2 linked regions of the Homo sapiens genome follow. The protein of the gene in region 1 purifies or fractionates together with the protein of each later gene. This does not show direct contact. Each region holds a gene or a part of one and is shown on either strand. Other genes may lie near its edges.

What was found.
Region 2: the proteins of RAB3GAP1 (region 1) and VAPB purify together in Homo sapiens (affinity purification with mass spectrometry; 6 studies listed by BioGRID and IntAct, with this or other methods). This does not show direct contact.

Annotation. Positions count from the first base shown.
Region 1 is NC_000002.12:135,054,896-135,070,343, forward strand, and holds part of RAB3GAP1 (rab3 GTPase-activating protein catalytic subunit), read left to right. Parts: intron 1-3,115; coding exon 3,116-3,191; intron 3,192-10,736; exon of another isoform or gene 10,737-10,839; intron 10,840-15,448. UniProt on the Homo sapiens protein: Catalytic subunit of the Rab3 GTPase-activating (Rab3GAP) complex composed of RAB3GAP1 and RAB3GAP2, which has GTPase-activating protein (GAP) activity towards various Rab3 subfamily members (RAB3A, RAB3B, RAB3C and RAB3D), RAB5A and RAB43, and guanine nucleotide exchange factor (GEF) activity towards RAB18.
Region 2 is NC_000020.11:58,434,795-58,452,108, forward strand, and holds the end of VAPB (vesicle-associated membrane protein-associated protein B/C), read left to right. Parts: intron 1-4,150; coding exon 4,151-4,231; intron 4,232-4,351; exon of another isoform or gene 4,352-4,514; intron 4,515-6,112; coding exon 6,113-6,289; exon of another isoform or gene 6,290-6,290; intron 6,291-9,282; coding exon 9,283-9,441; 3' UTR 9,442-16,307; downstream 16,308-17,314. UniProt on the Homo sapiens protein: Endoplasmic reticulum (ER)-anchored protein that mediates the formation of contact sites between the ER and endosomes via interaction with FFAT motif-containing proteins such as STARD3 or WDR44.

The sequences.
Region 1 (15,448 bases):
GTTTAATTTTAAATGAAAGATCTTGTGAGTACAATATGTTATGAACTATATAGATAATTTATTGAGAGAACTGTATAGAAGCCCATAACTCTTTTTATCATTTGTTCATTGACAATATTTATTGAATCCCCATATGTCAAGCACAGTGCACATTACGGATTTAGGGATGTGGTGGTTAGTAAAACAGGTACGGTTTCTGCTTTTACTAAATGTGCAGTCTAGTGCATTACAGACACAAATCAAGTAATACAAGTCTGTAATTATGAGTTTATGTAAGAGCTAGAAAGGGAAAGAAACCTGGTCTTATAAGAGCCTATAACAGAGGGACCTAATATAGAATAAGGAATCAGGAAATGACCCTTCATTTCCTGAGAGCTTTTAAGGAAAAAATTACTTAGTTTTTCTAGTCAAATCTCAATACTTGTAGGATAAAGTCCAAGTCTCTTAGCTAGTACTGATAGAATTCATTATTCATACAATAAGTATTTTAAGACATTCCTGGCCGGGCATGGTGGCTCATGCCTGTAATCCCAGCACTTAGAGAGGCTGAGGCAGGCAGATCACTTGAGCTCAGGAGTTCAAGAGGAGCTGGGGCAGCATGGCGAAACCTTGTCTCTACTAAAAATACAAAAGCTAGCTGGGCATGGTGATGTGCACCTGTAGTCCCAGCTAGTCAGGAGGCTGAGATGGGAGGATTGCTTGAGTCCTGGAGGACAGAACTGCAGTGAGCTGTGATTACACCACTGCATTCCAGCCTGGGTGACAGAGTTGAGACCCTGTCTCAAAAAAAAAAAAAAAAAGACATTTCTTCTTTTACTGTAAAAACTATATTTTAAATAGTTTTCACTATAATAGTAATACCTTATAGTAGAATAAAAAATAAAAATCACCTGTAAACTTAACACCAGGAAATAACTGCTGTTAATTTTTTGACATATTTCCTTTTTTTTTCTTTTTTTGAGACGGAGTCTCGCTCTGTCGCCCAGGCTGGAGTGCAGTGGCGCGATCTCGGCTCACTGCAAGCTCTGCCTCCCAGGTTTACGCCATTCTCCTGCCTCAGCCTCCCAAGTAGCTGGGACTACAGGTGCCCGCCACCACGCCCGGCTAATTTTTTGTATTTTTAGTAGTGGCGGGGTTTCACTGTGTTAGCCAGGATGGTCTCGATCTCCTGACCTCATGATCCGCCCGCCTCGGCCTCCCAAAGTGCTGGGATTACAGGCATGAGCCACCACGCCCGGCCGACATATTTCCTTCTAACGTGTGTTAAAAACTTTTTTGGATCAAATATTAATATTTCTTTTTCTTTTTCTTTTCTTTTTTATTTTGAGACAGAGTCTCACTCTGTTGCCCAGGCTGGGGTGCAGTGGTGCAGTCTTGGCTCACTGCAACCTCTGCCACCTGGGTTCAACCAATTCTCCTGCATCAGCCTCCTGAGTAGCTGGGATTACAGGTGCCTGCCACCGCGCCTGGCTAATTTTTGTTGTATTTTCAGTAGAGACGGGGTTTCACCATCTTGGACAAACTGGTCTTGAACTCCTGACCTCGTGATCCACCCGCCTCAGCTCCCAAAGTGCTGGGATTACACGCGTGAGCCGCTGTGCCTGGCCTTTGTATATTTTCTTTTGATTGACATGATTTTTATTGGGTGCATATTAGTCCTCTGAGTGGATTAATTTACAAGTATTTCCTGCAGTTGGGCATTAAGGTAACTTCCAGTTTTTTTAGCTTCGTAAATATAGTATACATTTCATGCAAATTTTTGCTTGCCTGTGGATATATTAAATTTTTCCTCTTTGGTAAACATGTAAACTTGTTTCTAGAGCACTGATTTTCAAACCTAGTAATTGTCATTTGACTGACCTCCCCCATGAATTAGTGTATGAATTGATACTGCATTTAATTTTAAAGAGGAATTAGTAAGAAGCCTCAGATGAATCATAGATTTATTATTACTATCTTAAAACATAATTATTAGTTCATATTAGTTCATAATGTCACTGAAGGAAAAAATCTGTTGCCTTTCCATACAGTTTGACTAGAATTAACTCTAGTACTCTAGCAGTACTTCCAGGTGTTTAGAGAGCAATGTTGCTGTTAGATTGCATCATACTTAGCTTATATAAGAAGTCAACTTAGAGTAAGAATAATTCTTCTGAAAATGTCTTTGACTGAGACTTGACAGTTTTCATTTACTGATGTTGAGCATGTTGCTACTCAAAATTCAGTTCTCTTTTTAATAGGCCTTCTTGACCATTGGATTTAAAGATTGGTGACTAGTTTTAAGACCTGTCACTTATACTTAAAGTTGACATATTTACTTGCAATTTCTTGTCAGCTGTCCATTAAAACTTGTTTTAGTTTCATGAACCAAGTTACCAAATAATATTTTCTTTTTTTGTTGGGGGCTGGGGGGGTAAATCGGAATTCCTAATATATTTAAAGGAAAAGTTTATTTAAATAGGTCAGTTATTGTGGGTAGGAGAGAGATGATTGGTTTCATAATTTTATTTATTTATTTATTTTTGAGATGGAATCTCACTCTGTCGCCCAGGCTGGCGTGCAGTGGCGCGATGTCCGCTCACTGCAACGTCCGCTTCTATGTGATTTTTGTGCCTCAGCCTCCTGCGTAGCTGGGATTACAGATGTGTGCCACCACACCGGGCTAATTTTTTTTGTATTTGTGCTGGGCTGGTCTTGAACTCCCAACCTCAGGGTTAGGAATTCAAAGGGCTGGAATTACAGGCATGAGCCACTGCACCCAGCCCATAATTATCTTTAATAGTATCATTTTAGTCTGTCAGTTTTTATTTGTGCCCCAAATTTGTTTTATTCGTTTTATTAGAGATTCATCAATTCTTAATTTACATTTTATAGAAGGCAGAATGCTTTTGTTGGGTAAGCAATAGATATAAATGAATCAAAACCTAAGAATTCTTGAATGAAAGAAGATTATTTCTCTTACCCCATATCCATAAATTAAGCTAGCAATACTAAATGTACTGAGTCCTCTCTGGTCAAATTGTTAAAATATAAAAAATACCTTTTTAAAGAAATTACATAATAATAGGAAAAAAGGTGTGCTGTTGTATTTAGAAGCTTTCTCCCTACTTCCTAGGTTTATTTCCAAAGTTGAAGAAGTCTTGAATGACTGGAAACTGATTGGAAACTCTTTGGGAAAGCCACTCGAAAAGGTCAGATCTATTTGCTGGTGTCTCTAAATGACTATTTACTTTGAAACCTCTATTTTCCAGCCCTTTGCTGCATTTGGCACATTTGAATTAAATGTTTTTTAAAGTTACGTATAATCTATAAACATCAAATAGCATTTGGAAGAATTTGGATTTAAATCTGTGGCAAATGATATATGTAAGACATTTGTGAAATGTTTAATAAAGTTATATATATGTGTGTGTGTATATATATATATATAAAATGTCATTCTTTGTGAGTGATTCTTTGTGAGTGAAGTTTGCTTCTCTTTTGCCTTCTCCCTTGGAATGTTAAAACATGTTTTTAAAAGTTTTTTATTTGGTCAGAGAAACATTGCAGTGACCATCTTCTTTGGTAGCATATTTTGCTTACTAATGAGGAAAATTCTAGTACTTACCATTGACTTACTGTAGTTAACAACTATTTCACTCAGTTTTTGTATTTTATAATATCACTAATAACATCCCCCTTCCCTTTTAAGCTTTTTAACTTATGGATGTTTTAAGGATTTTATTTAAGAATGAAAAAATTACTCTTTGAAATTGAGGTAGAAATCAAATTCTAATCTAAAGTATTGGTAGTTTTATTCATAAACCACACCCCAAATGTTTACTGAAGAATGTACTCTGAGAACAAACCTGGATTCACTGTGAAGGGATCTAACAATTTGATTTTAAGTTTATGTAGATGCTTAGTTTGTTAGATAAATTCTTTTGAAATAAAATTTATGGTTGGTTTTATTACAACTCAATATTACTAACTCAGTGATAACTTATTAACTCAGTAATTATTAATTCAATAGTAATTTAATTATAATTTACCCTGTGTTAGGAACTTTGAGTTCTCAATATTTGCTAGGGGTTTTCAGCTTTGTGATGGTGATACTATCAAAAAAGAGACTGTCAAAATGCATTAGGAAGCCAGGCAACATGGTGAGACCCTGTCTCTTAAGGAAAAAAAATCTCCTTATTTGTATCAATATGAACAGAAAAAGTAAGACCACATATAAAAAATACATCATTCAAAGACTCTTGGCAATATATACATTGATTTACTACACTACATGTGTGAATAAAGAAAATGTGACGCTTTCAAACACGGGTCATTCTACTCCACTTGAAACAAATACATAACAATTGATATAGATGCCAATAAGATTAGAGGCAAAATAAGCTGGATATAGCTAGAATAGGAAATGATTTACACTACTAAGAAGAGAGCTAAACCGGGTACTTATGAGCTCTGATATTCTTTCATTCTTTGATTTACATGTATTTACTGAGTACCTGCTATGTGCCTGATGTGAAGAAATTGTGAACAAGATAAGATCAGTGTTGCCATTGAACATAAATTCTAGTGAGGGTGATCAGTAAAGAAACATTAAAATTTTATTTTATTATTATTTTTTAAATTGATATATGATAGATGTACATATTTTGGGGTACATGTGATAATTTGATACATGCATATAATCAAATCAGGGTACTTGGGAACCCTTAAATATTTATCTTTATGCTAAGAACATGCAAGTTACTCTCTTTTAGCTATTTTGAAATGTACAGTCAATTAGTGTTAACTAAAGTCACTCTAAGGGTTAAAGTTTTAGATGCTAAATTCAGTTTTGGGATTTAAGTGGGTAGTTATTTAAAGTAGGTAGCATACTGCCAGGCATGTAGTAGAGGCTAATGAAGTCATAGCTCCAGTCTGTTTCTCCCTACTAGATAGTAGTACATAAATAAGATACAGAAAATATGGGCAGATTTCAAGGTGAGCTGTAACTATGATGAATATGAAGAAAGTGTAGAGGACAGGGATTGTTTGGTGTAGAAAACAAAGTTTAGAGACTTCCTTTGAAGATTTTAACTTATATGAAGGACAGTGATTATTAATTTTCTCCTCCACTGAGGGGGAATTAAGGGAAATTATTTATTAAAAACCTTTAATTATGGAAAATTTCAAACATATATGAAGTAAACAGAATAGTATAATGAACTCCCATGTACCCATCACTTAATGTCAACAATTAATACTTTGCCATTTCTTGTTTGAGTGGTACCTCTGTTTACTCCCCTACCTCCACTAGATTTTTTTAATAGTTTTTTTTTGGGTAAGATTTATATACATTGTAATGGACAAAACTTAACTGCTTGATTTTTTTTTTTTTTTTTTTTTGAGACCGAGTCTCGCTCTGTTGCCCAGGCTGAAGTGCAGTGACATGATCTCAGCTCACCGCAACCTCCACCTCCCGGGTTCAAGAGATTCTCCTGCCTCAGCCTCCCAAGTGGCTGCGACTACAGGCACCCGCCACCACACCTGGCTAATTTTTTGTATTTTTTAGTAGAGACGGGGTTTCACTGTGTTAGCCAGGATGGTCTCGATCTCCTGACCTTGTGATCTGCCCGCCTCGGCCTCCCAAAGTGCTGGGATTACAGGTGTGAGCCACCGCGCCTGGCCAACTGCTTGATTTTGACAAATGTTCACATGGGTATAACTTACACTCCTGTCAAGATAGAGGTCATCTCTGTTACCCCAGGAAGATCCTTAGTGACCCTTTCTAGTTAATTCCCATGCCCTCCAGTCATCTGCTATTATTATTATTGTTATTATTATTATTATTTGAGACAGAGTCTTGCTCTGTTGCCCAGGCTGGAGTGCATTGGTGTGATCTTGGCTCATTGCAACCTCTGCCTCCCGGGTTCAAGCAAGTCATATGCCTTAGCCTCCCAAGAAGCTGAGACGACAGGCATATGCCACCTTGCCTGGCTATTTTTGTGTTTCTAGTATTTTGTATTTTCACCACGTTGGCCAGGCTGGTCTCCAATTCCTGGCCTAAAGCAATCTGCTTGCCTGGGCCTCCCAAAGTGCTGGGATTACAAGTGTGAACCACTGGGCCCAGCCTTTTTTTTTTTTTTTTTTTAAATAAACATAAATTACTGTCACCTGCTTTAGAACTTTACATTTAGGTGACCATAAATGTCCTTGACATCCTTTACTCACGATAATGTTTTTGAGATTCATCTAGGTTGTTGTACATACCAGAATTTCATTTCTCTTTATTGCTGTGTAGTAAGTGATCTGTTTTATGAATATACATGGTTTCTTTCACTTGTCCACATACGTACTATTAGGAATAAAGCAGAACATTATTGTATGAGGCCTTTTGTGGGCATATGTTTTTATTTCTCTTGAGTAAATACCTAGGATTGGAATCACTGGGTAATAGGATAGGTGCAACTTTATAAGAAACAGCTAGAGCTTTTTGTACTGTTTTACCTGCCCACCATCAATACATGGGAGGTTGTGTTGCTATACATTCTCACCAACAATCAGTTGTTTGCAGTCATGTATATTTTAGTCATCTTAATGGGTATGTAGTTTGTGCTTTTAATTTATATTTCTCATTTTGGTTTTAGTCTGTATTTCTGTGATGATATTAATATTGACCACTTTGAATTTTCATGCATTTATTAGCCATTTGTTTATCTTCCTTTGTGAAATGTCTTTTCAAGTTCTTTATCCATTTTAAAAATTGGATTTTGTTTTTATTGAGTTGTAGGAGTTCTTTTAGTTTTTTTTTGGTATATATATATTCTGCTTTTAAGTCTTTTCTCAGTAGTTTTGCTAGGTTGTGAAGATGTTTTTAATGCATTTTTCTAGAGGGTTTACCAATTTATCATTTAACCTTTGTTAAGGTCTATGATTTATTTTGAGCTACTATATGGAGGGAAGTAGGGATCAAGTTTCTTCTTCCTTTTTTTTGTGTATGGATATCCTGTTGTTCTAGAACCTACTTTGGAAAACACTTTTTCCATTGAGTTGCTTTGTCACCTTTATTGAGTAGTTGACCTAAGTGGTCTACTTCTGGAGTCTGTATTCTGTTTCATTAGTCTATTTGACTATCCTTATGTCAATACCATATTGTCTTTTTCTTTTTTTTTTGAGACAGAGTCTCACTCTGTCACCCAGGCTGGAGTGCTTGATCTTGGCTCACTGCAGCCTCCTGCCACCATGTTGGCCAGGCTGGTCTTGAACTCTTGACCTCAGCTGATCCGCCCGCCTCGGCTTCCCAAAGTGCTGGGATTACGGGCATGAGGCACTGCGCCCGTCGTATATTGTCTTGATTACTGTAGTTTCAGGTTTCCTAACCTTGGCACTATTGACATTTTGGGCCACATTGTTGTGAGGCTGTCTTATGCATTGTCAAATATTTAATAGTATCTTTGGTTTCTACCTGCCAGATGCCAGTAACATGTTTCCAGTTGTGACAACCAAAATTGTATCCAGATATTGCCAAATGCCCGCTGAGGGGCAAAATTGGCCCCAGCTGAGAACCATTGAATGGATTTTTAGTAAATCCTGATGTTAATGTAAATTCTCCATTTTTGTTGTTTTCCCAAGATTTTAGATCTTTTGTGTTTCAATTATGAATTTTAGAATAGGCTTGCTAATTACTATAAAAAGGAGTATGATTATGCTGAGACTGTAATTGGGGTTGGGTTGAATTTGTAGATCACTTTGGAGACATTTTAACAGTTTTGAAAGTTCTAGTCATGAACATGGCACATCTCTCCATTTATTTAGGTCATCTTTAATTTTCCTCAGCAACATTTTGTAGTTTTGGTAGAGGTCTTGTATATCCTTTGTTAAATTTATTACTAAGGATTTTATGTTGTATGATGCAAAAATAAATGGAATTGTTTTTTAGTTTTGTTTTCCAGTTGTTCACTGCTAGTACATAGATACATGGTAAAATTTTGTATGTTAACTTTGTGTCATAACGCCTGGCTAAACGCACTTATTAATCGTGATCATTTAATTGTTCTGCATTTTTCTACATTAATAATTATGTTGCACACAAATAGGGACAGTTTTACTTTCTTTCCAATTTTTATACCTTTATGACTGTTATTGTACTATCCCAGACCTTCAGTGACATGTTGAGTAGAACTGCTGCAAGTAGACATCCTTGCCCTCTTTAAATGTGAAGTGGGGGGAAATGTTCAATGCTTCAAAACTTAAGTTAACTGTAGGTTTTTTAATAGGTGTCCATAAGACTGAGTAAATTATTTTTTTAGTTTGCTGAACGTTTTTTGTTTTTATTGTAAATGAGTAGTCAAGTTAGTAAAATCTTATTTAGCATCTATTGAGATAATCATATAGTTTTTCTTTTTTATTTTCTGAATATGGTAAATTATGTTGATTAAAAATTTTTTTGTTGTAAAATGTAAGATTTACCATTTTAACGATTTTTAAGTGTAAAATTTAGTGGCATTTAGTACTTTCACATTATTGTGCAATCATTACTACCATCCACATCCAGAACTTTTTTCATCAGCTCAAACTGAAACTACCCATTAAACAAGAACTCTTTCCCCACCCTCAGTCCCCTGGTAACCACTCTTCTACTTTCTGTCCATGAATTTGACCATCCTAGGTACCTGATATAAATGGAATCATACAGTATTTGTTTTTTTGTGTGTGTGTCTGGCTTATTTCACATAGCATAATGTCTTCAAGGTTCATCCAGGGTTATAGCACATGTCAGAATTTTCTTCGTTTTTAATGCTGAATATTAATATTGTATGTATATATCACATTTTGTTTATCTGTTCATCTGTTGATGGACACTTGGGTCGCTTCTACCTTTTAGCTATTATAAATAATGCTGCTATGAACGTGAATGTACAAATATCTGTCAGGTTCCTGCTTTCAGTTCTTTTAGGTTTATACCCAGAAGTGGAATTGCTGAATTATTTGATGGTGCTATTTTTAACTTTCTGGGGAACTGCCATACTTTTGGCTGGCTACAAATTTTGTTTTTGTTTTCCTGAAAGATTTTGCCGTATTTTTGAAGGATAGTTTTGCTGAAGAGTGCTGGCTTGATGCTTATTTTTTTCCACTTCTATAAAGATGTAGTTCCATTGTCTTCTGTTCTCTGGAGTTTCTAAGGAGAAGGTAGATATATTCATATTTTTGTTTGACTTTGTTGTTTTTCTCTGGCTGCTTTTGAGATTTTTTTATTTAAAAAAATTTTATTTCAGCCATCTGACTATGATGTGCACAGATACGTTTTCTTTGTATTTTTGCTGCATAGGGTTTATATTGATATTGGATAAATTTTTGTTTTTCACCACATTTGGGGTGTGTTAGGTCATTATATCTTCAAAATTTTTTTGCCCCATTCTCTACTCTTTTTCTGTGACTTAAGCTATACTTAACATTTGACTTGTTGATCCTGACCCACAGGTGGGTCTCTGAGGTTCTGCTGTCAGTCTTTTTTCTCTCTGTTCCTTAGGTTGAATAATTTTTCTTGATTTCGAGTTCATTTTTTCTTTCTTCTTTTGTTTCCAACTTGCTGTTAAGCCTACCTGCTGTATTTTTCAATTCAGTTATTGTACTTTTTAGGTTTAGAATTTTCATTTGATTCTTATGAAAAACTTCCAATTCTCTGAGATTACTTATCTCTAAGTTTGTTTGAAACTTGAGTGTATTTATTATAGCTTTAGTCCTTGAGTGTATTTATTATAGCTAGTCTAATGCCAGTTGCATGACTAGGTCTTTTTGGGGTTGGTTTCTGTTGATTATGTTTTTTTTTTTGAGTATAGATCACATTTTCCTGTTTCGTTTTGTTTTTTTCCTGAGGTGTTTTGTTTTTTTTTTTTTTTGATATGTGTATCCAGTAATTTTAAAGTTTCATGCTTACATTATGAAATGTAGAGACGAAATGTAGTCTACATTTTATTTATAATGTAAGCATAAATTTTCATTCATAAAATTTATAACATTTATGTTGTGTTCCTCTGAAGAGTATTTTTTTTTTTTTTGGTTGTAGAGAGTGGTTTGCTTGGCTAGATTAAAACTGCATTCTCTTTTCAGTGATGGCAGCAGCTGAAATCTTTTCTTTCCAGCTTTTTCTTTGTCATCGTACCCTAGAATCTCCTCTGCACATGCATGGTTTAGCAGATAGCCAAGGTTTGGGACAGTTTATATATAAATTTGGGGGACTTACCCCCTTTTGGCTTCTTCCCTTCCAGAATTTACACCTCAATGTTAGAACTGTCCTGTCACCCTCAAACTTTGTCCGGTGTCACCTAAATTCAGTAAAGCTATATCTTTCTGCTTCCCGAGTTGTACACAGATTAGAGCCCCCTTAGATCAGCAATTCTCAGTGTGTGATCTGAGGACCGTTGTCTGTCTCTGAGAACTTTGCAAGGGGTGATCAGGGTCCCTGCCTTTTCCAGTTAGGTACGTGTGTACTTGAGGCCAAATTTTCTTCATATACTTCAACTAGAACAATGGATTGCAGTGATTCATTGCAGAAGCAGATATGAGAATATAGTTAACTTTTTAAAAGCTATACATTAAACAGATTTGCAAAAAGGTAGAACAGGGTTACTCTTCTCATTAATATTTTTGTTCCAGAAAATGTCATTAGAACTTATATGTTAAAATATAAAAAGTTCATCATTATTTGTAATGAATTAATAAATTACAATTTTTTCCTTTTCAATTTTTTTGTGTTTTCATGTCAGATGGTAATGTACCAATGTTGTGACAATGTTTGAGGGAGGCATATCTCATATGTATGCGTGAAAACTTAAACGTCACGCTTTCGAACTATGAAAGGATCTCTTAAAATTTCTAATACGGGATCTTCACTAATTTTTTTTTTTTTTTTTTTTTTGAGACGGAGTCTCACTCTGTCACCAGGCTGGAGTGCAGTTGCGCGATCTCGGCTCACTGCAACCTTTGCCTCCCAGGTTCGAGTGATTCTCCTGCCTCAGCCTCCTCAGTAGCTGGGACTACAGGTGTGCGCCACCATGCCCAGCTAATTTTTTTTTGTATTTTTAGTAGAGATGAGGTTTCACCATGTTGGCCAGAATGGTCTCAATCTCTTGACCTTGTGATCTGCCTGCCTCAGTCTCCCAAAGTGCTGGGATTACAGGCGTGAGCTACTGCACCCCGCCAGTAATTTTTAAGAGTGTAAGGGTGTCTGAGTCCAGAAAGTTTGAGAATTGCTCTTAGACAAAAAGGTATAAACAAGTGCCTGTTGTCAGATACACTTTCTTTTTCTCAATGGGTAAACTCTTCCCAGCTTCTGCCTGCATTTGGTCTCTCTCCAGAGCATTGAAAAATGGTGTTTTTGTCCAGATTTTATAGGAAAGTTTATCTGACAAAGCTGCTTTGCCATTACCAGAACCCAAAGTGCTGGGAAATGATTTTAAAAGGGAAGGAAATGGCAATTATTGAGCACCAGCTATGGTATTGGTATCATGCACTATAGTTGGGACTGTGTCTGTTAACTTAATCCTTAAACAGACTTCAACAGTTAGTTATAACCCTATTTTATGGAGGAGAAATAAGGCTTTGAGTTCATGTGGTACTGTAATTTTCCCAGTGTCATTTTGCCAGTAGTTTTGGTATAAGCGGGATTAAACCTAGGTCTTGCCTTCAGAACCCATGTTCTTTCTATTTTACTCTGTCCTTTTTGGTTTCAGAAATTTAAGTGTGTGTAAAATTACTTCCAGTGAGTATTAACATAGGTTTCTAAGGCAGATTTTGGGATTCTGTTGTCTGGGGCTTTATAAAATAGATAAAAATCTTGGTGGTATGAGTATGATCCTTGAAGGCAAGGGAAGTAAAGAAATGACCTTTTAAGTTCCTTTTAGCCTTGTAATTTTATGATTCTATTTAGCTAGCAAAAATTTTAAGTACTTTTAATGAAATGTTAAGTTTAGGTATGTCATGATCCAGTAATATAACTGTTTAGTCAGTGACTGACTCGTATCTCCCTGAAAAATTCATGGAAGAAGAATTAGCTTGAGAGTATTAATAGAATAATAATGACTACAATGATGTTGAAATGAGTTCACATTTTTCATACCCACTCAGTAGATGGGAATGACACTTCAGTACTTAAAGTTCATATGGCAAATTTAAAATGAATTTGAATTATAAATTTTCTCAATTAGAAACTTCCCAAACTAAGTTATAACAATAAGTCAAATTTGGGACTTATATAAACTTTATATAAACAGTTTAGATTCCTTTATTTGCATTATCTCAGAACATTTAGTTTTTTTATGGAGTATTAAAGTGGAGGAGTATATGTTTTATCAAAGCTGAAGTTTTTGGAAACTAAAGAAGGTTGAGGATCAGTCACTGATGGGAATGCAGTGTTTTTGAAATTCAGTAAATAAAAACAGAAGCAACATTGAGCTACTCACAACCTTGTTTGGAATGGGACATGTAAGATAAGGTTTGTAGTTTGTTTTTTTTCCTCTTCATTTTTATTTTTCCTTTAAATCGTAACCATAGTGTCTATAGCTTCTTTGGATATTATGTAGAAGAAAAAAAATAGGTGTTTTGTTATATCTCTGATTCATTCAAATTGGAAGTTTTGGGAATCTTGCTGTTATTGTTGTCAACATTTTTATTGTAATATAAAAATGGCAGGAGATATCTTTAAGAGGCAGAATAGCACACATAGGTGATGAAGAGTATGCACTTCAAAGTGGTACAGCTTGTGTTGGAATCCTAGTTCTGTTGCTTATTTGCTTTGTGGCATTGTGCTGTCTCAGTTACTGTTAGTCATTATTTATTGTTTTTGCCTTTCTGTCTTAATTGCTGTTATTATTTTTGAGAGAGGGTCTTGCTGTTACCCACGCTAGAGTGCGGTGGCACCATCTTGGCTCACTGGATGGAGCCTCAACCTCCTGGGCTCAGGTTATCCTTCCACCTCAGCCTCCTGAGTAGCTGGGACTACAGGTACATGCCACCATGCCCAGCTAATTGGTTAAATAATTTTTTTTTCTGTAGAAATAAGGTCTCACTATGTTGCCCAGGCTAGTCTTGAATTCCTGGGTTCAAGTGATTCTCCCGCCTCAGCCTCCCAAAATGCTAGGATTACAGGTGTGATCCACTGAGCCTGGCCTCTCTTACAAGTATTTACTAGAGTCAGTAAAATGATACTTGCTTAAGTAGAGTAGAATATAAACATAGAATTATTTAACACTCTATTGCAATAAAAACGATTGTTTCTTAGAGCACCTATCAGTTAAAAGCATAGCACCTAGCTGGGGGAAAGCTTTATGTAATATATTCTGGCTGAAAAAGCTCAAGTTTAATTCTGAGATAGATAAGAATTAAGTATCTTTTTAGACATTTTTAGTTCTATTATTTCCTAATTCTTTTATATATTTTTAATGATTTGCTTGCCATTTAGTTACAGCACAATAACTAAATTTGTGATAAGTGAAATTTTCAATATGCATTATGAATTTCACTTTGAACTTAAATTTGGTTTAAGGTATATGCCACTAAAGGAAGTAGACTATAAAAATTTTTCTTAAAAAAAAAAAAAGAGGCTGGGCGCCGTGGCTCACGCCTGTAATCCCATCACTTTGGGAGGCTGAGGTGGGCAGATCACCTGAGTTCAGGAGGTCAAGACCAGCCTGGCCAACATGGTGAAACCCTGTCTCTACTAAAAATACAAAAATTAGCCAGGTGTGGTGGCAGGCACCTGTAATCCCAACTACTTGGGAGACTGAGGCAGGAGAATCATTTGAACCGGGGAGGCAGAGGTTGCAGTGAGCTGAGATCACGCCACTGTACTCCTGCCTCGGTGACAGAGTGAGACTCCATCTCAAAAAACAAAACAAAACAAAACAATCCATGCTTATTTTAGACACTGTTTGATGTAATGAAATTTCTCTGTAATTCTAAACAACAAACATCAATCTGCTATGAGAGTTTTTCATAAATTAATACTCATTTTCATTACACGACGTGCTAACTTAAATTTTACCACTTGGCTGGGTAGGGATCACATTTTGTTATAATGAATGCAACAAAAAAGATTTTTCACAAAAAATAAGTTAACAAAGCCATAATCATTTACGGGAGATTTTGGCAGTTACATCTCTATTGCTGTGACTCTTAACCTTTTTTATGGTCTGGCATACAGAGGGTGTAATTTGGTATCATTAGTAATAACAGTTAATTTGATAATTCATTTATTACATACACAACACATTGCCTGGTATATGCTTAGTACATGTTTGTTGATTGACTCCCCAGAATACACGATTAACCCCTTGAACTTGTCATGTTCCCTTTGTATAAGATATGCAGTGTAAACAGACCACATTTACTTACCTGGGAATTTTGTTAAAATATGGTGATGGTGGCATTTTTAAAAGCATTATACAGAAGATGGAAAGTCTTCTGGATGGTCTTGTACCTTTTAAAATAACTGTAGTTTAATTTTTCTGCATTTAGTTTTATAATTAACCATTTTCTGTACTTTTTTTTCTTTATTTAGTCATTTTTCCCTTTAGGTTTTTGATTTAGTGATTTGATTTTTCCTTCTAATGAATTTCATATAAATTGGCAAGTTTTATGGATGAGTCATTTTCTAAAACTTTGTAAAAATGGTTGTTGAGAATTTCAATTGCATTTTTCCATAGAACAGATGTGTTTAAGATATGTTTACAGGGTAGCAAATAAAATATTAATTTTTTCTCTCTACTTTTGGGGCCATGTCATAAAAGATTCTTCATCATCTCAACTACTTCTTTTTGTTCGTTTTATTCATTTTTTTCATTTATTTATTTGTAGAGAGCCTACTGTGCAGTAGGAATTATCCCCCTCACTTCCTGTTTATTAAAACAACCTTCTACCCCTGCCCTCCCTCACCTCCAGATTATTAAACCCTTTTCCCTTTACTCCACAGTCATTTTATCTCAGCTGTCATACTTTCTGTGCCTCCCTCCAGGAAAGGAAAAAAAATTTTTATCTGAGGAATGGGAGCTTCTTTAAATTATCCATCAGAAAGAGTCATTTAAAATGTAACAGCAGTCTCACCTCTCCTGAGCTAAATAATTACCTTGAAGCCACTTGCCATGTGGGTTGTTAAATGATGCCAATGGCCATAAAATGCCATACGATGGGTATTATAATTCATACCCTGTAGTTCAACAATGTATAGCCAATCACTAATCAGTGTTATCTCTGTAAACCAATGAGAATTCCTGTCAAACAACTTGGTATCAGCTCACTCCTTGTTTCCTTTAAAAACCTGTTTGTAACAGAGGCAGACAGACAGACAGAACACCCCCCAAGGCAACTTGGAAATGTGTCCCGGGCTGCAGTCCTCAACTTTGGCCCAAATAAAATCCCTCTGTTATTTTGCCTCAGCTTCTTCTTTTAGGTCAACATGTGTAACTAATGACTTGGA
Region 2 (17,314 bases), on another chromosome or scaffold:
ATGTCAAAATTATTTAAAAGGGAATAGTTTTTTTTCAAGGAGGTTTGTACTTTATCTACCTTTATGGTTTTTCTAAAACTTTGAGGAATAATTTTAACATTTTTTGTGACTTTCTAGAAGGCTGTTCTTTTCTGACTTTCCTGAGCTCAGTGTGCTTCAGCAGCTCCTTGCACTGGTGGATGGTGTCTTGCATGGTTAGGGATTGCCTTCTTTCGCCTCTCCTTTCTGCCCCGACAGAAAAGGATACTTTTCATTGTCCCGCCTTTTTCTTACTTGTCTTCTCATCCCCCACAAACTCAAGAGCCATGTGAGAGTGTCAGTGCTGAATGTCCTCACCCATTTAGACATACATGTTTGTGGCTTTGTTCTAGTAAATATGCTTATTTATTTTCCCCCCTGCTTAAATCTATGTTTAACTTTTCTCTAATTTTGATAAAATTAAGATGACTTCATTTTTATAAAAGAAATAAGTGATGTTAGTGATGGTTTTGGAAAAAAAAAAAAGAGTATAATGGACATTCCCTCCAAAACGAGCTTTTTATACATTTGAATAAGTCCATTGGCATTCTGGGGCTGGGAGTTGAATTGAAATCTACAATACAACCCACAGCCCCAGCAGGGACAGATGCGCTTGTCCTTACAGTTCAGGAAAGCAGGACAGGGTTGCCTCATACCACTTGCATTGCTCTCCAGTTTTGGCCCGCCCAAAGGGGAGCCCCGAGTCATCCACGGCAGGTCTGCCCACCTGAGTCCGCTGTTCATCACACCATACTGCAGTTCTCCTCTGTCTGAGTTTCATACCAAGGGCAACTCAGGCCAAGACCACCCCATGCCCTATGTCACCACATAGCCTTTTGTTTAAGTTCTGGAGAAGCATCTCCGCTGATGTTTCACTTGTAGGCAGAAAATGAAGGAGGAGGCCAGATATTTTTGACTTTTAGAGAGATCAGTGATAATAGGCTGTCTTCTTTTCATAAGAACAATTCTTATGAAAACTTTCTCTGATTTTCTGCAACATGATGTGTTACTTCATGTTAATTTGTGTGATCAAAGAAACATGGCAGATAGAAAATAATGGAAGATCCAAGGGTGTGTTCTGTTTGGCTTCTGCTGCATGGCATAGTGAAAAGAGCATGGGCTTGGGTGTTTTCGAGCTGAGTTCTTCCTTTTACTGACGTTGTGGCTGGGAGCAGGTTTTATTAACTCTGTTGAGGTTTTGATCATTTGTAAAATAGGGATAAAAATGCAGCTCACACAGTGGTGAGTATGAAGTGTGCCTGTGTAAGTGCCTGGTGGGTCCAGTGTCTGACACTTGCTTATCAGAGTGTGTAATAGGCCAGTCACTGCATATCTAGTAAAGGGTCATTTTAGTTCCTTGTATGATGATATAAGTTTAAATTTTTTTTATATAAAATGTACATTGTGGGAAATTTTGGAAATACACAAATGAAAAAAATTTAAAGTGACCCATAGTTCTTTTCTACTAGGCCTAACCATCATTAATGAGAAATGAGAGCTTTGTGTTTTTCTTCCTTTTTTTTTTTTTTTTTTTTTTTGGAGACATGATTTTACTGTGTCACCTAGGCTGGAATGCAGTGGAGTGATCTCAGCTCGCTGCAGCCTCCACCTCCTGGGCTCAAGTGATCCTCCCACCTCAGCCTCCCAAGTAGCTGGGACCACAGGAGCGCACCACCATGCCTGGCTAATTTTTTTGTAGAGACAGGTTTTCTCCATGTTGCCCAAGCTGGTCTCAAACTCCTGGACTCAAGCGATCTGCCCACCTCAGCCTCCCAAAGTGGTAGGATTACAGGCATGAGCCACTGCCCCAGCCTGCTTTTTCTTTATTTTAAAATGTTTTTCTTTTTATTGTGATATACAGAAAGTTGAAAAAATAGCATGGTGACCACTCATATAACTTTTACCTAGATTTACATTTGTTAACATGTTGTGACATTTGCTTCCTTTCTGTCACAAACTTTCTTATTTGCTTGAGATGCAAATTTATGACACTTCACCCCTAAATGCTTCAGAGCAAGGACAGTCTCTTATATAGTCATGATACTATTAATCATAGCTGAAAAAAGTAACTTCAATTCAGTATTATTATGTGATAAATTCATATTCATTATTTCCTAGTTGTTCCAAAAGTGACCTTTAGTAGAGGACACCCAAACCTTTTTGTTTTTCAAACTTTGAACTTTTTTTTTTTTTTTTTTTTTTTTTGAGACAAAGTCTTGCTTTGTCACCAAGGCTGAAGTGCAGTGGTGCAGTCATGGCTTGACCTCCACCTCAGCTGTTCGAGTAACTAAAACTACAGGCATGCCACCATGCCGGCTATTTTTTTATTTTTTTATAGAGTTGGGGTCTCACTATGTTGCCCAGGCTGGTCTTGAACTTCTGGGCTCAAGTGATCCTCCTGCCTCTGCCTCTCGAAGTGCTGGGATTACAGGTGTGAGCCACTGCACCCTGCCCAAACTTTGAACTTCTTTTTTTTTTTAAGAGTCCAGGCCAGTTGACTTACAGAATGTCCTGTATTCTGGATTTATTTGATTATTTCCTCATGATTAAATTCAAGTTAAATGTGTTTTGGCAAGAATATTCCATAGTTGGTATTTCATACCAGGTTGTTCCGCTGTTGGTGATGCTGTTTGATCACTTGGTTAAGATGGTGACTGCCAGCTCTCTCCACTGTCATAGCACAAAGCACATTTGCCCCTGTGGTTAATAGGTAATCTGTGATACTCTGAGTCATCTGATACTTTGAGACCATGTGAATATCCTGCTCGCCAGCAGTCTTTCACCTGGTGCTTTTAGCATTCAGTGATGATCCTTGCTTGATATTTTTTTTGACTTATGTGGTAGGCACACGTGTACAGGTGTGTGTGTGCAGAGGAGCAGACTTCAGTATTCTTTGCGATTTTTTCACTTAACATTCTGGACATTTTCTCCATCTAACTGAGTGCTCTTCAGCATCATTTGAGTGGCAGCATGCTGTTCCGTTTAGTGGATCTGCCATAATTTTTGTGGCAGTCCCCTAGGGTCAGATGTATAGATTGCTTCCCACTTTTGGTTCTTGGTACCTGTGTTACAGTAGCTGCCTCTTGCATGGTTTTGGGAAGGGTTGAGGGCATGGAGGGTGGGGGTGCCTTCTTTTTCTATATCATAACCTTGCTGCTATCCTGGTCTGTAATCCTAGAATACCCTGGAATTCCCATCTTCTGCTGCCAAAAGGAGAAGTAATCAGGAGCGTATCCTCTTAGGACATGGGATTTAGCTAGGAAGGTGCTCTCACTACAGCCTGGAGGGATGGAGATGGGTCTTGGGGTAGACACAGCCCACACACTGCCACAGTGACAGAGGAGGGATTTGGTAATGAATGTGTTCCGTTGGTAGTTGGCAGAGTGGTTCTGAAACTAGTCCCAGATAGTATGCGCTTATACTTTCTAGATATGCCTTTAAAATAAGTTTCATTTTCTCATTTTAATTTAATTTATTATTTTTGAGACAGAGTCTCTCAGTGTCCCCCAGCCTGGAGTACAGTGGCATGATCATGGCTCACTGCAGCCTCCACCTCCTGGGCCCAAGTGATCCTCCCTCCTCAGCCTCCTGAGTAGCTGGGACCACAGGCATGTGCCTCCATGCTTAGCTAATTTTTTAATTTTTTTGTAGAGATGACGTCTCCTTACGTTGTGCAGACTGGTCTCAAACTGCTGGGCTCAACCAGTCCCTCCACCTCAGCCTCCCAAAGTGCTGGGATTACAGGCATAAGCCACCATGCCCAGCTGAAAACAAGTTTTATTTTCATAAGGAGAGCCAAGGTTACCTGGTCATCCAGACATTGTTTAGAGGATTCCTTTTTGTTCAGTGGTGGGCCTGTCCCACAGAGTAGCAACATGGGGAGCATTGGTTGACTTTGAGGAGTCAGGCAGCAAGACTTCAGGGTTTATGAAGTGTAATATTTTGAGAAAGTGAGTGTATTTAATCTTGTCATGTTACAAATATTGAAATCTCAGCAGACTTCAGTTCTTTATTTGATATACATCAGGGCTTTCTCATTAAGAGTATTTTTCTGAAATTGTCAGTTATAGGAAGAAAGTTATTCTTCCAGCAGGTTTATAATATCTTGATTATTAAATTTAAATTGTTTTAGTGGAAGGAGGCAAAACCGGAAGACCTTATGGATTCAAAACTTAGATGTGTGTTTGAATTGCCAGCAGAGAATGATAAACCAGTAAGTATATTTATAGTTAACAATAATTGAATGTTGTAAGCTGATACTTATTTGCATACCATTTCCTGCAAAACCAAGATTTAAGTTGGCAAATTATTTTCCTTTATCTGATGTCTGAAGAAAAAAAATAAGCTGAAGTCAGCAAATAAGTGGGCCTTTATGAAATCAGCCTTTGAAAAACTCACGGAAAGACAACTGATTGACAGTGTTTCCCCTTGAAAAGTGCAGCCCGATGGCCATTGAGATGTCATAAATCCTGAAGAGCTTCTGTGGCCTGGCAAAGGTATAGGTTGCTGTTAAACAGTGGGTGAGAGTGAAAGAGGGAACAATTTGCCCTTTATCATGGTGGTTGATGGACGTGTGGGAAGCTTTCAAGTTCTCTTGTTTTACAAAGTGCCCTGTCAGCCTCCCTACCCCTTTTACCCTATCTACCTCTTCAATCAAAGGCTGCTTTTAGATGAGGATTTCTCAGCCTCAACACTGTTGATATTTGGGGCAAATCCTTGGTGGTGGTGGAGGTTGCCCTGTGTACTGTAGGGTGTTTTATTAATAGCAGCATCCCTGGCTTCTGCCCTCTTGATACTGGTAGTACTTCCCAGTTGTGACAACTAAAAATGTCTCCAGATATTGCCACATGTGTCCTGGAGGGCAATATCAACCCCCATTGAGAGTGATCCCATTCCGGTGTTGCCTGTGGGGAGAAGGAAGGAGCCCCATCCTCTAGGCTGTCCACTGTGAGCGCTTTACCTTTCATGATCCTCACTTGTGACCAGTTGAAGAAAGGAGACTGTATCTGAAATGCTAATTTGGACTTCCCTTCAACCTAGTCGAAAACATTTTAATTTTTATAAAAACACCAAAACTGTGAAAGCATGCAGCATGTGAAACTATCCTAGCCATTAATAGCTGGAGTTGGGAAACAGAAGTACCCTGAAATGTTGTGTTAACAGTATCTATGTTGGTCTGCGCGAGTGCTGTTGATTTGTGTCAAAACTACCTGAGATTTTATTTCTGCTGAATCATTTACCACTATCATTACCCTGTTTCTTTAAGTGGATAGTGGTCATTTTTTCCCTCTTCCCAGTGTACATCCTGTCACAGGAAGGTCAGTTTGGAAGCTGTGAAAGCAGTATTCTGGCCTCAGCTCTGTGATAGGTTGACTTGGTAGCCTGGGGCCTTGCTTCACAGGGCCTACTCTTCTCATCTGGAAAATGATGGGTAGAGCTAGATTCCAGGCCAATGATCGTCAGTTACTCTTTCCCTGACAAGCTGCGTGCTTCCATGCCCTCCCTCCACTGACTGGCTCTCATCCCCTGTAAATCTCAAGAGGGGATCATAGCTGAATCTTGGCAGGGGAAATAAGGGGAGTATGTAACTTCCCAAGATTGAAACATTGCAGACACTGAGTTTGTTTCACCTTCATCCCAGCTTCCAAATGCTAAGTTGGTAAAGTAATTCGCCCTCTGTCTAATGCTCTCCCAAGCCTCCTAACCCCACTAAGGCAATCCTAGGGATGTTCACATCTTTGTGGTGACAGTAATTTGTGGCTAATAATTCCTGAGCTTGCACAATTACAGTATGCTGATTTTTCCGTGGCAGGAATTTGATAGTGCAATATACACAGCCCTTTTTCTCTTTCTTTGAAGTATTAGTCTCAGCCGAACTTCATTATTTGCCCTTATCCATAATTTCTAGGGCCCTGTTGCTTTAGATTATTAAGATATCAGATAAAGTAATCCATTTTTAAAATAAATGTGACATTTTACAGTGTGGATGAAATGCTACCACGTTTGGTGTTTGCTGAGAACTACTTTACTTTGCATAAAAAAGTCCATTATTACATGGTCGGTGACACTTAGGCTTTCATTTGTTTTTGAACAGCATGATGTAGAAATAAATAAAATTATATCCACAACTGCATCAAAGACAGAAACACCAATAGTGTCTAAGTCTCTGAGTTCTTCTTTGGATGACACCGAAGTTAAGAAGGTTATGGAAGAATGTAAGAGGCTGCAAGGTGAAGTTCAGAGGCTACGGGAGGAGAACAAGCAGTTCAAGGTAATAGTTTATTTTCTGGTAATCTACAGAAAACAAGGGCGTTTTCACTAGCTTCTTGGGTGGGGAAGTTGATGAGCCAGTGAATATATAGATTTCTTTTTGCTTTTGGTATTTGGCTATTTTTTTCTCCCCAGGGAGAAATTTCCATGGCTTTCATGAGAGTCTCAAAAGGGTCCTTGGATCTGCCTAAATTAAGAACCACTGTCCCTTGATCAGAAATTTCTCAACTGTTGAAGCTCTTGTCCCCTTAAAAAAAAAAACAAAAACAAAAAACTTGGCCGGGTGCGGTGGCTCACGCCTGTAATCCCAGCACTTTGGGAGGCCAAGGCGGGCCGATCACAAGGTCAAGCGTTCAAGACCAGCCTGGCCAACAAAGTGAAACCCCGTCTCTAATAAAAAATACAAAAAATTAGTTGGGTGTGGTGGCAGGTGCCTGTAATTCCAGCCACTCGGGAGGCTGAGGCAGGAGAATCGCTTGAACCCAGGAGGCGGAGGTTGCAGTGAGCTGAGATCGTGCCACTGCCCTCCAGCCTGGGTGACAGAGCTAGACTTCGTCTCAAAAACAAAATAAACAAAACCCCAAACAACTCAAACTCTCCATTATTGTAAATTGAAAATAAATGTTGAGACCAAAATAGTTTTTATTTTGAATATGCATTTTTAAACCACTTGGGTGAGAATCTTTTTTCAGAGAGTGAATACTGACCTATACTCTGTTTTAATGCAAGTATAGTTCTGATTTTAGAAGACTCTAAATAGGTCTGGGCAGTTGTGGCTCATCAAACTATTGATGTGGTGATGAGCTTGGAGGTGGGGTGCCTCACAGTGGGTAGGAGGTGGAGATTATGGAAGGAAAATCTGAGCTTCTAGCTTCTGGATGAGGCAGTTGGCATTGGCAATGGAAGGTTGTATTGTACTGAGTGATGAAGTGGGGAGGCAGGGGGTGCTTCTTTTGGCTTGTGGTGGTGTGGAAGTTGCTCCCATCCAATATGAAACAGCTCTGAATCTGTGCTGGTCACAGCATCTCTTAGGCCTCTGTTTGCTAAACACCTCTAAGGCCCCTTCCAGCTTTAAAAGTATGAGTTTTCTTCTCTTTTACTCTGACAGTGAGGTAGATATAGGAGAACTGACAGCATTTGGGAAATGGCATCATCTTCTTCCTTTGCAGTGATTTTGATTTGCCTCAGTCAGTAATTTCTTTAGTGTGTAGTAAATTGTGAAGCTGACACTACTTTTTGGCTAAAAATCTAAGCTATGCCTGAAGCTTCTCGAGTGTATTTCTCTTCTGAAACAGAGTTCTGTGCTATTTAAAGTGGTAAATAGGTAGAAATAGCTTCTATATAACCTAATAAAATAAATGGTTTAGTTTGCCGGGTTTTTTTTTAAGCCAGTCGGACACCACCAGTTGTTTATCACTGTGCAGTGATACGGGCCATGCCCCATGAGCAGAATATCCTTAAAATATGATCAGACCAATCTCAACATTAGAAGATTCTTTATCCTGCCAAACACTGCCTTCTTGTTTTGTGTTGGTTTATTCTGTCATCTGGCCAACAAATTTACTGAGGGTCTAATATGTGCCCGGCACTGTGGATTCAAACACGAACAGCCCCTGCCCTTGAGGAGCTCTCTGTTGTTGGGATAGCAGGGAGAGACATAGACAGAAGTGATTACAAGCCAGTGTGATCAATGTCCCACAGAGATAGCAACAAATTGCAGGGAGAGTCAGCTCCATGGGACTCATCTGCCTGTGGTCCCCAGGACCTACTAGGTACTCGGGCGGATGGGAGCGAATGGAAGGAAACGAAGAAAAGAAAGTACAGCTGGTGTGTGGGGTTTAAGGATGAGGAGATGAGGTAATTAGCAAGAGATCTATCAGCAAAGATGAGTCTGTGCCAGAATAGAATGGCTTGATGCATGTCCCTCTTCAGGGATGTGGGCTTGGCTTTGAGAGCATGGAAATGGCATCATAGATCTACATAGTAACTTGCAGATTCTTAGGAAAGTGCAAGGCAGTTGTGGCAGTGGAGGTGAAGGAAGAAAAAATTTTTCATTTCTTACATTTCCATGTAGTTTGGGGACAAGGGGAGGGTGGGGAATATGGTCAAATATCTTTATATGTATGAAAAAGAATGTTGCTTCTTCAATGAGAAATCTATGCATTAAGTAGAAAATATTTGAGATGAGTGTATGAAGGCCAGTCACATTTTAATATTCCAAATATCATTTGATCCAGCAGTCTGGATGTAACTCATTAAGTACCAGCTATCTACAGAGCTCTGCATTTGAAAGCTTCCAGATGTCCCACTTTTAGGTTTTTTTTTTTTTTTTTTTTTAATATGGAGTCTCACTCTGTCACCCCAGGCTAATTTTTGTAATTTTAGTAGAGACGAGGTTTTACCATGTTGACCAAGGGGTAGTCTTGAACTCCTGAGCTCAGGTGATCCACCCGCCTCAGCCTCCCAAAGTACAGGGATTACAAGCATGAGCCACCGTGCCCAGTTGACTTTGTAGATTCTTTTATTTATATATTTATGTCTTGGGAAATGCCTGTGATTTTAAAAATCGATGATTTGATCAAGGAAGGCTATTCATTAGAGGCAGGAAGGACAGAGAGGTTGGGGTTGAAGAGAAGCATCCGGAAGACATGGCCATAGAGGTGGGTGGGGCCGAGGGTGCAAAGGGCCCAGTTGACCCTTTTAAGTGCTTTTTTCTGTAAATCACGGGAAACCAAGGAGCACCCTGTTTAGATGTCTGTTGTAACTAGCAGCAGCAAGTGGAATGGATGAAAGAAAAGAGGGGACTGTTTTCTCAGTGGCTTCAGGCTAGCCCTTTCCCCTCTGTAGCCTGCAGTTTCTCCGTTTGCAAAATGCGGTTGGACCATATCATGTCATCCAACACTGGGCATAAACAGCCCATCCCGTTAAGCTGTACAGTTGACTCCCCTTTCTGGTGCCTTGGCTTGTCTTTGAAATGTGCGTTTGCTCCCGTAGGAAGAAGATGGACTGCGGATGAGGAAGACAGTGCAGAGCAACAGCCCCATTTCAGCATTAGCCCCAACTGGGAAGGAAGAAGGCCTTAGCACCCGGCTCTTGGCTCTGGTGGTTTTGTTCTTTATCGTTGGTGTAATTATTGGGAAGATTGCCTTGTAGAGGTAGCATGCACAGGATGGTAAATTGGATTGGTGGATCCACCATATCATGGGATTTAAATTTATCATAACCATGTGTAAAAAGAAATTAATGTATGATGACATCTCACAGGTCTTGCCTTTAAATTACCCCTCCCTGCACACACATACACAGATACACACACACAAATATAATGTAACGATCTTTTAGAAAGTTAAAAATGTATAGTAACTGATTGAGGGGGAAAAGAATGATCTTTATTAATGACAAGGGAAACCATGAGTAATGCCACAATGGCATATTGTAAATGTCATTTTAAACATTGGTAGGCCTTGGTACATGATGCTGGATTACCTCTCTTAAAATGACACCCTTCCTCGCCTGTTGGTGCTGGCCCTTGGGGAGCTGGAGCCCAGCATGCTGGGGAGTGCGGTCAGCTCCACACAGTAGTCCCCACGTGGCCCACTCCCGGCCCAGGCTGCTTTCCGTGTCTTCAGTTCTGTCCAAGCCATCAGCTCCTTGGGACTGATGAACAGAGTCAGAAGCCCAAAGGAATTGCACTGTGGCAGCATCAGACGTACTCGTCATAAGTGAGAGGCGTGTGTTGACTGATTGACCCAGCGCTTTGGAAATAAATGGCAGTGCTTTGTTCACTTAAAGGGACCAAGCTAAATTTGTATTGGTTCATGTAGTGAAGTCAAACTGTTATTCAGAGATGTTTAATGCATATTTAACTTATTTAATGTATTTCATCTCATGTTTTCTTATTGTCACAAGAGTACAGTTAATGCTGCGTGCTGCTGAACTCTGTTGGGTGAACTGGTATTGCTGCTGGAGGGCTGTGGGCTCCTCTGTCTCTGGAGAGTCTGGTCATGTGGAGGTGGGGTTTATTGGGATGCTGGAGAAGAGCTGCCAGGAAGTGTTTTTTCTGGGTCAGTAAATAACAACTGTCATAGGGAGGGAAATTCTCAGTAGTGACAGTCAACTCTAGGTTACCTTTTTTAATGAAGAGTAGTCAGTCTTCTAGATTGTTCTTATACCACCTCTCAACCATTACTCACACTTCCAGCGCCCAGGTCCAAGTCTGAGCCTGACCTCCCCTTGGGGACCTAGCCTGGAGTCAGGACAAATGGATCGGGCTGCAGAGGGTTAGAAGCGAGGGCACCAGCAGTTGTGGGTGGGGAGCAAGGGAAGAGAGAAACTCTTCAGCGAATCCTTCTAGTACTAGTTGAGAGTTTGACTGTGAATTAATTTTATGCCATAAAAGACCAACCCAGTTCTGTTTGACTATGTAGCATCTTGAAAAGAAAAATTATAATAAAGCCCCAAAATTAAGAATTCTTTTGTCATTTTGTCACATTTGCTCTATGGGGGGAATTATTATTTTATCATTTTTATTATTTTGCCATTGGAAGGTTAACTTTAAAATGAGCCCTATCACTGAGAAATACGTGTTTCATGATTTAACTCTGTGTGTGTGTGTGTGTGTGTGTGTGTGTGTGTGTGTATTTTTTTTTTGGTTGTCTTCAGCTGACAGTATGAAAAATGAAACTGCTGAAAAAGCTGAGCACCTGGTCACCCTTGGCCTTCCATTGCTTTGGCCTTCAGTAAAAAGCAGCCTCCCTTCTAGGTCAGGGAACCATGCCATTGAGACTAGTAACGGGCGTTCTGGGCACAGTCCCACTGTGCACAGGTTTGAGAGGACAAGTTCATCAGAAGGAAGGCAGTCCTTAGAAGTCACATACGTTGAGCCACGTTGCTCCTAAGCCTGGCTCTGTCAAGCTGGGTCAGGGGCCTTGAAACTGGAGAAGTGGAAGTCTATGGTTGGTCTGAGTAAGTAACTTCCTGTCTTCATGAAAAAAGTTGACTTTGAATCCCAGGTACTCACAGAAATGGTGAACAGACTTAGTTGTTACCCAGGCACCCATGGATTGTGTTGAGTGTGCAGACAGGGAGGCCACCCCAATAGGAATTCGTCTCCAGGATTTTTCCCATGTGTCCCCCAGTACTTATAAAAGGGAGTGAAAAGACCGAGCTGTAAGGCATGTGCCTTCTGCCACCTGACTTTCCGTGAGGGGACTAAAATTTACTAATTGTAGTTGCTGCAGCCAGTTAAGTCCTGTAGCTTCCAGGCCCTCATGTCTTTGATAGGAGAGTGCTTAGGTGGTCCCCAACAGTGCCTAGGGGTACAGTACAGTCCCATTACACTAGAGCAGGGCTCTATTTATTTTTAAAGGATATGGCCGTGTGTTTTGATAAAACTTTATTCACAAAAACAGCCGGGTCATGGGATTTGGCTTGTGAGTCTGTAACAGTTCTTAAAAAGAATATCTGAGAAACTACTCTGTTTTAGACCTTTGAAGGTGATTTAGAGTTTTGTGTACATCTAGGAGAAGGTGTTCAGCTTCTCAGAGGATGTGGACATTTTGGTTGCAGCTAAAAATCAGTCTCTGAAGTCTCTCTCCCTTCTAGAGGTTAGGACTTGGTGAACATGTTTGTGGGCCTTTTGACTGAGTGGCAGAAGGAAACTGCTCAGGAAGAGAAACAGGTGACTGATGGGAAGGTTGATTATTTTCTCAGTCATCCTGGCAGCCAAAAATGTGCCAGGAAAAGAAAGAATGTGGAGCACGCGTGGCTCCTGGAGGACTTGGAGATGCATGCACATTTAGGGTGTTTTCCCTAGAATTACATAATGAAAAAAAGAATAAGGCAAAGAGGAGGTGAATATGGGGCCTGTCACAACGGCCTGCCCTGCCCCAAGAGGGTTAAGAGTCAGATAATCGGGACGAAACTGGCATGGAAAGAGCGAGCCTAGGGAGGATGCCGCTGGGCAGTGTGCATGGGGGAGCTGCTGCCAGGCTGCCCTCCAGTCTGCTCCTGTGGTTACTGGCTCCACAGCACCTCAGAGAGGGCGGCCCTGGCTTCAGAAATGCCAGCCATAGTGCTCACAAATGCAGAAGAGATGGAAGCGGTGACAGAATCCTGAAAGTTTTTATTGATTGAAGTTTTAAATTGGTAACTTAAGCTTCCTTGGCACGATACAAAATACCTCTTAAAGACAGCAGGCTTTTTTATTTGTAGGTGTGAGGAACTGGCTTTAACTTTTTTCTCCTCCTAGTTTGCATGTTTTCCTTCTCTCGTCTTCTGAACTGCTGGCACCAGCAGTAATACATACTGATAAAATCAAAATTGATTTTTACCAGTGGCCAGTTTATGGCTAGAGAGACGACTTATACCTCCATAACACAGAAGGGGGAAAAATGAAGAACCTCCAGTGATCCGTGAAAACCTAAACGCTTTCAAACAAATCCCAGGAACAGAATTGCTATCGAAAGATATCATTGCCCAGTTTGCAGGCTATGTTGAGTCAGATAGAACTGAATGTAGTGAGAGCTCAGAGCTACAGAGCCTTTCAGATGAATTTGAAAACAGACTCTGTGTGTGTGTGCATGTGTGCATGTGTGCATGTGTGGCATATGTGCCGTATGTCAGTAGCTTGACAGTTTTCAAATCGTGCCTATATTTTTTTGCATACACAAATTTTTGTGTTTGCAAACTCAGAATCCATGCCAAAATACAATGTTATATGTCATTTTCAGCTCCTTCTCTAAAGGAATGGCCCATTTCTCATTGTAGTTTGAGAAATACATGTATGAAGAGATAGGGGTCTTGGGCTTCCCAGTGTCACTTTGAACACCTGAATAACATTTAACTCCTGAGACCTTCTCGGTGTAGAGGCCACTGCTTCCCCCTGCTGGAGATGGCATTTCATTGAAGGGCCTCTCGTGGCTTTCCCTGCCCCCGGCTGTCTGGCCTGAAGAAGGAGAAAGAACCAAACTGAACTATGAAAAGTTACCACTCTGAGGAGACCTCTCTTAATTAACACTTGGGGCCATGTTTGCTGTTGTTGAGAAGGAGTGTTCTCAAAGATGAGCTGGAATGGAATTGTATTTAGAAAGGCCCCTGCAAAGTATATAGATGGATGACTCTAGTTCATGACATACAAATCCCATAAGGCCAACGACCACTCTTCTGGAACACCAAGAGCAGCTCTGAGATCATGCTGGCCCTACGCGAATTGAGTTTCTGTGGCCTAATTGGATTTGGAGAACGCCTTCCCTGGCCCCTTTTCCTCAGACAGATCTGCTCTGATAGGAACCTTTTCAAGAAAGTTACTGTTGTTTCAATGCCACTCCTTACCTGTATAGAACATTTCCAATACATTCGCTCATTGAACTTAATCCTTGCAACTGTGACTGGGGGGTAGATGGCTCTGTTTGCATACGAAGAAATAAAGGCTCCAGGAGGTTAAATCGGGCAACTTTTTAGAACTAAATCAGTCTCTGTAAGGCCTACATTGCTAAGATACCATTTCAGCTCTGAAAATCTGCTTCAGGGAAGTGAGTGGATGAGGCCTTCCTGCCTCAGCTACTCTGCCCGTCTGTACATCTTTTGTGTCTGCCTCCGTACCTTATTCAGTTATTTTCACACTAAAGTAAGTAGAATTAAGACTGTAGTTCAGATGCTTTTTCTTTTTCTGTTGGAAACTGAACACACTACAGACAGTGAAAAAAGGTACATATTCCATTTTCTCATTGCCTGAAGATCTCTGCTGATGCTCCTGGAGAATGACTTTGGGGGCTTTAGAAAGAATATTGCCAGTCCGTCTCGGCAAGGAGATGATGGGAGCGCTTTATATGGAGGCTTTACATGACTTGTAAATTAAATGTGAATGAGGGCAGTTGATTAAAATTGGTATTACAGAAGGGCCCTGCTGAGGTTTGAAAACAGCTGAGCTGCTGATGTCTCAGGCCTTTCCCTGAATTAGCACTGCGGTTCTCCAGGATATCAGCAAAGAGGGCAAGTAATAGAAGCCCCTGATAAGGAGCGTCAGCCGACAGGCAAGCTTGGGAGGCTGTGGGAATGGGTCTGCCCCCAGCTTCACAGACCTCTTCCTCCAGCCTCTGAATCCCATTAGCCACAGCCTAGAACATTAGCTGAGCTGCACAAGCTCACCCACCCCTGTGCCAGGGGGCCCTGACCTCCCTCCATGCCATGTTTTTGGCTGTATCTACGGCACTTAACAATAGGGGCTTTTTATTTTCATTACAGAGATATTTTGAAAAATTTAAAAGACATGAACTCACATAAACAGTTATGGATGATAGTTAAAAGAGAAACGGGTGGAGGTGGATGAGAGGTTGTCTTCATGAATATAATTACTTGAGATTTTTTTTTCTTAATGGAATTAGTTTATTAGAAAATGTCTGTGTTAAATCCGTAGAAAAGGAAGAAAAGTGTAGCAACAAAAATGTAGCCATTATCTAACTTGCCATAAATATTTGCAGTTATGATACCTTGGAATGTTGCCACGATATGGATTGCTTTGATTAAAAGATGTCAGTTGAATAAAACAGTACTGTGGGAGAATCGCTTTCTGCTGCTAGATAAATGCTGATGTTTATTTTTAAACCAGGAAACATTGATCCTGTAACAATGCCCGATTACAATTGCTTTATTACACCCCAGGGCTGATGGAGATGTAATCACTTGGCTAATGGATGTGGGTGCAGGACAGATGCTCGCTTGCTGGCCTGCTTTCCTGCTTGCATTCTGATGAGCTGCAGGAGTGCGCCTGGCCTTCTGCAGGTGGAGCTGCTGTCAGAGCTTCGTTTCACTGATACCCAAAGCCATGTCTGACTGAAATAAAACAGGTTCCCTTTTTTTTTCCCTTTGGAAAATGCCAACTAAGGGAGACTAATCAGATATCTTAACACAATTTCATCCAGGCTTAGTGCTAACAAGATTGCGGGGCTTTTTAGGGTTTAAGAAGATGAGAAATGAGTGTGCACGTTTCACACGTTGACTTGCCGGTTTTTCCATGTCATACAAAAAAGTCCTGGCTGTTTCTCCGAACTGGCTGCCTGCATTCCCGTCTTTCTTTTGTTTTTAAGAAATAGACTGAATTCAGCTGTTAATCCTCTAGTACAGTATCCATGTTAAAATGTTTTTCCATTGCATCTTTTATGTGAATTCAAAGGTCAGAATTTATTGTCTGTGATATTGAGACCATGTGTACAAGAACTACTTTTTGCTTTTCATCATTCACTCCTTAGCAAACGTTTCGTAAGTACCCTCTGTCTGTTTGCTACTATATGAGGTGCTGCGAAATTAGTGGGCGTGGCTTTTTATATTTTTCATTCGTGTGTAGCCTAAGTAAGGTGACTCAAGATGATACACCGAGAGAAAAATGCAAAATATATTTGGTTCTCATTTCTGTTGCTGTCGTTTCCTTTTTAAAGACGATTTATCAACTGCTGCCATTTGGAACTTCCTATAAGAAACTAAAAATGATCTATTTCAGTGTTCCTTTCGCCTTTCCTCTGCTTTCTGAATAAATGGTTTCAGTAACCCATGCTGTTCTCTCCCTATTCTACGTCTTTCTCCCTATGTTGAAAAAAGATTCCCACAGTTTCTGATGTGTGTGTTTATAGTCTTCAATGTATGTTAACATGTTAGGAACTGAGTATCTTAAGAGATGTCTTAGAATGCTTTAGTTTTCATAATTTGTCCTTTATGTATTTTTCATTGTATTTGCTGTTTTGACATGGAAGTAATTTAAAAAGTTGGTGCAGGAAAGGACTCTTTACTGTTGCACATTTTGGTTTTCTGATATGTAATAAATTCATGGCTTGGCAGCTGACATGATGTTTCCCAGAGAGAAGGAGATGTATTTCTGCAGGGTCCAGACCAAAAGAGCCATTTACAGCATGTTCTCCCATGTTCCATTATCAGCCTGATGAAACCTGCCCTGCCAAGGCATAAACTTTTGTACTAGCTGTCTCCATATTATGTTCAATAAATTCTGTGCTCTGAATATATTTAAAGGATGCTTCAGTGTAAAATTATTTTGAATGGATGGCTTAATTCCATTGAGATAGGCTTTGGAGTGTGGACTAGAGCCCGTTGCTCGACTCTCACTGCTTTGTAGGAACATGAAATTGGTTTAAATTAAAATCAGAGACCTTTTGCACCAGAAAACAGATCTAAGAGATCACTTAGGTCAACGTCTTCATTTTACTGATGAGGAAACTTTTGCCCAGAGAGCTTAAGCACAGGGACCAGCTTGCATGTCAGTGTTTTCCTATTGGGGGAAGTGTGTGTCATCAGTGATTTACAAAGGTACCCACCTGTGTAAATTGCTTCCAGCTTTGAAAGGTGGGTGGATTCTGTCTTTTAAGTAGTGGTTGACAGTTCTCCATCTTACAGTGTTACCTTGTTAAAACGTTAATGAAAACAATTTTAACTTCTTTTGGAAAAGTAAGGTGGGCAAATGGTAAGACTTCACACAAGACCAAGGGGTACACAGTATACAAAATCAGGTTTCCTCCATTCCCAAACCTTTCTTTCTCCAGAGATATCCTGAACTTTCCATGTGTTGACTCTTTCTGGAGATCTTCTATGCACATATATGTCTGTGTATATACAGCCTTGTGTTTTCCTTTTGTTTTGAGACAGGGTCTCACTCTGTCATCCAGGCTGGAGTGCAGTGGTGTGATCACAGCTCACTGCAGCCTCCACCTCCCAGCCTCAAGCAATCCTCCCACCCCGGCCTCCTGAGTATCTGGGACCATAGGCATGCACAAGCATGCCTGGCTATCTTTTTTATTTTTTTGTAGATATGAGGTCTCTCTGTGTTGCCCAGGCTGGTCTCGAACTCCTGGGCTCAAGCCATCCTCCTGTCTCAGCCTTCTAGAGTGCTGGGATTACAGGCGTGAGCCACTGCACCCAACCATGTGTTTTCTAATACACATGCAACAGCACACACTAACTGCTCTGTTGTGCATGTTCCTTTTTGGACTTTGAAGTTTATCTTGGAGATATTTCATGCCAG